Homo sapiens: one gene and its partner. The protein of the gene in region 1 purifies or fractionates together with the protein of each later gene. This does not show direct contact. Each region holds a gene or a part of one and is shown on either strand. Other genes may lie near its edges.

Evidence for each region.
Region 2: the proteins of CDHR2 (region 1) and MRS2 purify together in Homo sapiens (affinity purification with mass spectrometry; one large-scale study listed by BioGRID and IntAct). This does not show direct contact.

What each region holds. Positions count from the first base shown.
Region 1 is NC_000005.10:176,580,083-176,583,901, forward strand, and holds part of CDHR2 (cadherin-related family member 2 precursor), read left to right. Parts: intron 1-1,260; coding exon 1,261-1,500; intron 1,501-3,819. UniProt on the Homo sapiens protein: Intermicrovillar adhesion molecule that forms, via its extracellular domain, calcium-dependent heterophilic complexes with CDHR5 on adjacent microvilli. Thereby, controls the packing of microvilli at the apical membrane of epithelial cells.
Region 2 is NC_000006.12:24,409,243-24,413,061, forward strand, and holds part of MRS2 (magnesium transporter MRS2 homolog, mitochondrial isoform b precursor), read left to right. Parts: intron 1-218; coding exon 219-331; intron 332-1,484; coding exon of another isoform or gene 1,485-1,557; intron 1,558-2,979; coding exon 2,980-3,153; intron 3,154-3,819. UniProt on the Homo sapiens protein: Magnesium transporter that mediates the influx of magnesium into the mitochondrial matrix and regulates magnesium metabolism. Also permeable to calcium, sodium and potassium ions.

The DNA of each region.
Region 1 (3,819 bases):
CCTTCAGGGCCCTGGCAGGACAGGAACACACACACACACTCACGCACGCACTCACACACGCACTCACACACACACTCACACACGCACTCACACACACTCACACACGCACTCACAGACATACAAAGTGAGTGAAGAATCAGCTATTTAAAACATATAGCGCTGACGGCCGGGCATGGTGGCTCCTGCCTGTAATCTCAGCACTTTGGGAGGCCGAGGTGGGTGGATCACTTGAGATCAGGAGTTCGAAACCAGCCTGGCCAACATAGTGAAACCCCATCTCTACTAAAATTACAAAAATTAGCTGGGTGTGGTGGTGCATGCCTGTAATCCCAGCTACTTGGGAGGCTGAGGCAGGAGAATCACTTGAATCCAGGAATTGGAAGCTGCAGTGAGCTGAGATCATGGCACTGCACTCCACTCTGGGCAACAGAGTGAGACTCCACCTCAAAAAAAAAAAAAAAGAAAGAAAGAAAGAAAAAAAAGAAAACAAAACAAAACAAAAGAAGGGCCAGACGTGGTGGCTCACGCCTGTATGTAATCCCAGCACTTTGGGAAGCTGAGGCAGGTGGATCACCTGAGGTTAGGAGTTCAAGACCAGCCTGGCCAACATGGTGAAACCCCATCTCTACTAAAAAATACAAAAAATTAGCCTGGTGTGGTGGTGGGTGCCTGTAATCCCAGCTACTTAGGAGGCTGAGGCAGGAGAATCACTTGAACCCAGGAGAAGGAGTTTGCAGTGAGCAAGAGAGATCGCACCATTGCACTCCAGCCTGGGCAACAAGAGCGAAACTGTATGAAAGAAAAAAGAAAAAAGAAAAAATATGTATATAGCACTGAAGTAGTCATTATGGGAAAATGAGAATCTTGCTGGACTTCACACTTATGAGTTTAAAACTTTCTTTGTCTACAATTTCCTGCCCCCATATCCCCCTTCCTGCTAGAATATCAGTAGCAAAAGGGCCTGTCTTGATGATGGCTCTATTCTTTCTTTGCACCTGGAACGGGGCTGGGCACGTAGGTCCACAGTGGCCGTTTGTGAGATGAAAGAATGGCCTCAGTGCTGAAGATCTCAGAAGCTCTTGCAAACTGCTGACCTGAGCCTCTTAGATGGGAAACTGGGGCTGGGAGATGGGCCCAGGGGCTCCAGGCCTGATGACTGCCTGCGTGGGCCAGCGCTGGAGAGGAGGGTCCGGCTGCATCGGAGGGGCTGGGGGCTGGGAATGCCGATGGCCGATGACCAACCCCTGCTTACGTGCACAGGCCCACGACAATGATGAGCCGGGCACCAACAACAGCCGTCTGCTCTTCAACCTGCTGCCTGGCCCCTACAGCCACAACTTCTCCTTGGACCCTGACACAGGGCTCCTCAGAAACCTGGGGCCCCTGGACAGAGAGGCCATCGACCCCGCCCTGGAGGGCCGCATTGTGCTGACAGTGCTTGTGTCTGACTGCGGCGAGCCTGTCCTCGGCACCAAAGTCAATGTCACCATCACTGTGGAGGTAAGGCCTCGCTTAGCCAGGATGGGCCTGGGGGCCTCCCAAGCCGATAGCCAGCCCCTCCAGCTTGAGTCACACTTCTGCCCTCTGCAGCCAGCCTGCCTGGGTTACAATCCCGCTCACTCGTATGGCCCCAGGCAATTACTCAACCTCCCTAGGCACTCAGGCTCCTCATCTATAAAACGGGGGTGAAAAAGGTTAAAGATTAAGTGAGTTAATGAATGGAAAGTGCTTGGTAGAGTGCCTGACCTATAGACAGTATCAGTGAATATCAGCTCTAATTGTCACTCATAAAGTCCCACCTGAAACCCTCCTGTCTCCCTGCCACCATTGAAAAGCAAAGGGAAGGGGTGAAAATCAGCATTGCTGGTGTCTATTGCACATCAGGGCATCCGCCAAGGTTGGGATGGTTATTACCATTTTGTTTTTATTTATTTATCTATTGATTTATTTATTTTTGAGACAGGGTCTCCCTTTGTCACCCAGGCTGCAGTGCAATAGTGCCATCATGGCTCACTGCAGACTCAACCTCCCAGGCTCAAGCGATCCTCCTGCCTCAGCCTCCTGAGTAGTTGGGACTATAGGCATATGCCACCATGCCTGGTTAATTTTTTTATTTTTGTAGAGATGGGGTTTTTCCATGTTGCCCAGGCTGGTCTTGAACTCCCGAGCTCAAGCGATCCACCCGCCTTGGCCTCCTAAGTAGCTAAGACTAAAGATGCGTGCCACCATGCCTGGCTAATTTGGCTAATTTTTAAAATTTATTTTTCATAGAATCAGAGTCTCACTTATTGTCCAGGCCAATTTTGAACTGTTGGCCTCAAGCGACCCTCTCAACTCAGCCTCACAAAATGCTGGGATTACAGGCATAAGTCACTGAGCCCGGTTTATTACCGTTTTATTGATTGAGCAACTGAGGCGGGCCTAGTTGCTGTGGCTCATGCCAAAAACCTCAGTACTTTGGGAGGCCAAGGTGAGAGGATTGCTTGAGCCCAGGAGTTTGAGACTGGGCTGGGCAACATAGCGAGACCCCATCTCTACTAAAATAAAAAATTAGCCAGGCATGGTGGCATGTACCTGAAGTCCCAGCTACTTGGAAGGCTGAGGCAGGTGGATCATTTCAGCCCAGGAGGTTGAGGCTGCGGTGAGCTATGATCATGCCACTGCAATCCAGCCTGTGAGACAGAGCAAGACCCTGTCTCAAAAAAAGAAACTGAGGCACAGAGAGGTTCAGTACCTTGCCTGGGGGTCACAAAATTGGGTTTTGACTTCAATCAGTCTGGTTCTAAGGCTGCCACCAGCCCACAAGGCACCTTCCTCTGGAACAGTATTGTGACAAATGTGCACCTCTGCCGTGTCTGTGATGTGGATGGCACCCCATAGGGTTGTGCAGTGCACAGCCTGCACCACTGCACATAGCAGCCCTGTGTCCCCTGGACTGGGATGTGCCATTTTCACACAAGGGTCAGAGAGTGAGACCTCAGAAATGAAGAAAACGAAGCAGAATGAGGACTTGCTGGTTGTCCTTAGGGTGGGAGGGCTGCAAAGAGAGAACTTCATTTCCTGAGTGAACAGGTTTCTTCACCCCTGTGAGCCGTCCTCACAATTGCCCTATTAGTGGGGACTACTACCCCATTTTGCAGATGAGGACACTGAGGTCCAGAGAGGTCAAGGTCACACATGAGGCAGAGGTGGAGCAAGATGTGACTCAGTGCTCTTATCCACTCCTGTGAGTTAGGGTGACCTTGAGAATGCAGCTGGTCTTGTGCGTGGAGCCAATGATGTCATCGCTGGGAAATTAGCAGCAGAAAAGACATCTAGCTAAGGTGCAAGAATGTTGTCTTCCAAATGTTCATTCTAGGGTTATTCAGAAAAACAAACACCTGTTATGTGACCCACAAACCTGGGAAGGGCTGGAGTGCTCAGGGCATCCCCCAAGCACATGCCAGTGTTAGGAGACATAGGGGAGGGCAGAGTCACCTCCAGGCTGTGACAATAGTTGCAGGGCTCCAGCTGTGCCCAGTGGGCTAGGGCTGGCCACAGAGGTGAGAGCCAAAAACAGCTGGTGTCTGAGGCAGGAGCAGGTCTAAGCTTCTGCAGGTCCCCGGAGCCCAGCTCTGACTGAGCACAGAGCTGGTGTTGTGGGCTCAGTTGTGTGCAGGAGGGACAGGGGTAGGAGGGGACAAGGGAAAGTGTGGGCCTTGGAGCCTTTGTGGACATATAATGGTATTGGTGCCAACACAATAAATCCGAGAGATGGGAGTCAAGCTGGGCCAGGCAGGGTCGCAGGTGGGGACCCAGAACTGTGCTTCTAGAAAGCAG
Region 2 (3,819 bases), on another chromosome or scaffold:
GAAAGTTATGAGGTATAGATAAGAAAATCATTAGTTTGACTCTATTTAGCCCGAGTATGTTTTCTAGGTAAAAATGGATATTAAAAGACTTAATTTTAGTTTTTGTTTCTGGTAGTAACCAAAAATTGTCTTGATGGTGGTGGGAGGACTGCTCTGATGGAAAAATCTAAGCCATTTAATGTATTTGGTTTAGCCCTCTCTGTTTATTTCTTTTATAGAAAGGAAGAAAACTGAATTATACCAAGAGTTAGGTCTTCAAGCCAGAGATTTGAGATTTCAGCATGTAATGAGTATCACAGTCAGAAACAATAGGATTATCATGAGAATGGAGGTAAAATATTTTATTTTCATCTATGTTTCTCCAATACAATCTTATAAAAGTTACCTTCTAACTATCTTGATTAGTATCTAGGTTAAAAGTAATTTTGGAATAGAAATAGCTACCTGAAACATAGGATGTTTTATAGCTTAATATGCTATTATGAGTAGAACTCATTTTATATGGATTATATGCACATGTTCAATAGGCATAACACTGCTGTGTTTTAAGTTGGAAAAGCTCTGACTGTGGTGTTCATTCTCACTGTTGGGATTTACTCTCTAGTTCTGGAAACTATAAGACAATCCTGATTTATAATAGATATATATCCAATTGTGTACAGTTACATGTAATTATAGTATAACCTGAGCTACCAAAAATGTATTCTGGCTTTCTAAATAGCACAGGAATAGACATTAAATTTTATAGCCTTAATTTTTTTTTTGAGATGGAGTTTTGCTCTTGTTGCCCAGGCTGGCACGATCTTGGCTCACTGCAACCTCCACCTCCCAGGTTCAAGCAATTCTCCTGCCTCAGCCTTCTGAGTAGCTGGGATTACAGGCATAAGCCACCAAACCCAGCTAATTTTGTATTTTTAGTAGACATGGGGTTTCTCCATGTTGGTCAGGCTGCTCTGAAACTCCCGACCTCAGGTGATCCACCTGCCTCTGCCTCCCAAAGTGCTGGGATTACAGGCATGAGCCACCGTGCCTGGCCAGTTTAAATTTTTTTAATGGAAAACTTTCTGAAATATATTGTATTTTCCCTTACCTATTCAGAGCATGCCAAATAATAATTTGACTTTCTTTAGTGATTCAGAGTTAATGTGGGTTTCAGTTATTTTGGTGGGCTAATGTTTAGGTTCAAAAATAGATGAATGGTATTGGCCCTGTAGTGGGTATGAGACTTTCTTCAAAGAGTCTTTGATGGCAGATTTTTGTTCATTTTTCTAGAACTAATCAAAATAATAAAAAATGGGCCAGTATTGGTAGCATGTGCCTTTAGTCCCAGCTACTCAGGAGGCTGAAGTGGGAGGGTCACCAGAGACCAGGAGTTTGTGACCAGCCTAAGCAACATAGCAAGATCCCATCTCTAAAAATAAATAAGTAAATAAAAAATACTTTATCAAAAATGAAGCAGTCTTCTCCCATGTGATTTTCTTCAGAAATATTCTCTACTCTTGGAATCAGTAGCTAGCATTCTTCAAAACAGTGTCTCTTTCATGGAGAGACAGACAGGTATGTGAAAAAGCAAATTCAGCAGAATGATAATTGTGTAATCTAACTGGTGGGTATATGGTGTTCACTGCAATCTTTCAACTTTTCTGTATAAAAATTTTCATGAGGCTAGGTTGTGGTGGCTCACATCTGTAATCCCAGCACTTTGGGAGGCCGAGAGGGGTGGATCACCTGAGGTCAGGAGTTCGAGACCAGCCTGACCAACATGGTGAAACCCCGTCTCTACTAAAAAATACAAAAATTAGCCAGGCATGGTGGCGGGTGCCTGTAATTCCAGCTACTCAGGAGGCTGAGGTAGGAGAATAGCTTGAACCCTGAAGGTGGAGGTTGCAGTGAGCCGAGATTGCCCCACTGCACTCCAGCCTGGGTGACAGAGCAAGACTTCCATCTCAAAAAAAAAAAAGAAAAAAAAATTCATGATAGAATGTTGGAAAAATGTAAAAATAGAAAATTATCTCTAATTTCTATATCACTGATAAAGTGGCTACCTTTATCTACTTTTAACATACAAGATAACCAGTCTTTTTAGAAAAAATTCTAATTTCATATTGTTCTAAATTAGAGTAGTAAGGCTATGTTTCATCTTAATTTCAGATTTTGTTTATATGCTTTAGTGGTGTTTTAAAAAGGAAACTTCCATTTGTGCCAAACTAATTATGATTAAACTAAATCTTTTCTAAAAGTCTGCTCAATACCTGACTTTTAGGAAGACCTTATCTTGTTCCCTTTATTTATTTATTTATTTTTTCCAAAAAAGAAAGACGGAGTCTCGCTCTGTCGCCAGGCTGGAGTGCAGTGGCACAATCTCAGCTCACTGCAAACTCCGCCTCCCAGGTTCAAGCGATTCTCCTGCCTCAGCCTCTGAAGTAGCTGGGACTACAGGTGTGGGCCACCACGCCTAACTGATTTTTGTATTTTTAGTAGAGACGGGGTTTCACCATGTTGGCCAGGATGGTCTCGATCTCTTGACCTCATGATCCACCTTCCTCAGCCTCCAAAAGTGCTGGGATTACAGGCATGAGCCACCATGCCCGGCTTTCTGGGGGTATTTTTTGGTGTTTTTTTTTTTGTTTTTGTTTTTTTTTCATGATTACCCCAGAAGTCTTAGTAAATATATAATTTATGTGAATAATTCCAGTTTTATTGAGAGTGAGTTAGCAGTATCAAGACATATATTTTTTAAGTTTCTTTTCTTTTGAAAAAAAAAACCTTGATTTTTTTGAAAAACAAAAATGAACACTGATTTGGTTTAGTCTTAATCCACAATTAGTAAAGTATTAAACCAAATTTTATGAATGTTCTTTTTTCCTACAGCTCTACAATTTGCATATATATATGTATGTATACATATATATGTATATACATGCATGTGTGTATATACACTCACATATTTATATGTTTTGGTTTTTTTTTTTTTAACAGTATTTGAAAGCTGTGATAACTCCAGAGTGTCTTCTGATATTAGATTATCGTAATTTAAACTTAGAGCAATGGCTGTTCCGGGAACTCCCTTCACAGTTGTCTGGAGAGGGTCAACTCGTTACATACCCTTTACCTTTTGAGTTTAGAGCTATAGAAGCACTCCTGCAATATTGGGTAAGTCTGTTTTTATTTAGCTTCTTGGGTTTATTCTGATTTTGAAATGTCATTGAGTGGGAAGACAAGTTGGGGTATTGTTTCAATGGCATGTCCCCTGACCACATCCTGCCCCGAAACAAGTCGTCTCTAAGGATCCTACATGGAGATATCACTTAATTCTTAAATGTTATGACCCAGTCAAATAGAACTAAAGACTCTATGTATATTATAAAAATGCTTGACATGTGATAATTATTTTATTAAATCATTTCATCAAGTCATTTTTTGATTTGTTTGTACAATCCTTTGTTTGAGCCAGGTAAATGATGCATCTTTTTGAGACCTAGATTGACATAGGAATCACGCACAGTTCTTCCAGTGACTCCTCCTTTAAATTAAGAGTCCTTAGATGTCTGAGACTCCTGTCAGGCTCTAAACAAGGGTGGTTCTCTGCTTCCCTGACCCCACAAATCTTTCATTATCTTTTCTTCCTCCTGTTAAGTCAGGATGGTACTGTTCAGGAACTGGCTACATGCAAGAGTTGGTGCTGGGAGCATACTAACCAGAGTGGGAGGAGGAGAGAGGGTAGAGAGGACATGAGGTGCATTGGGTTGGGTGAACCTGGCACACTTTTCTTTTGTCTGCCTTGCTCTGAAAGAATAGATGGCTACACTTCCTGCTTGG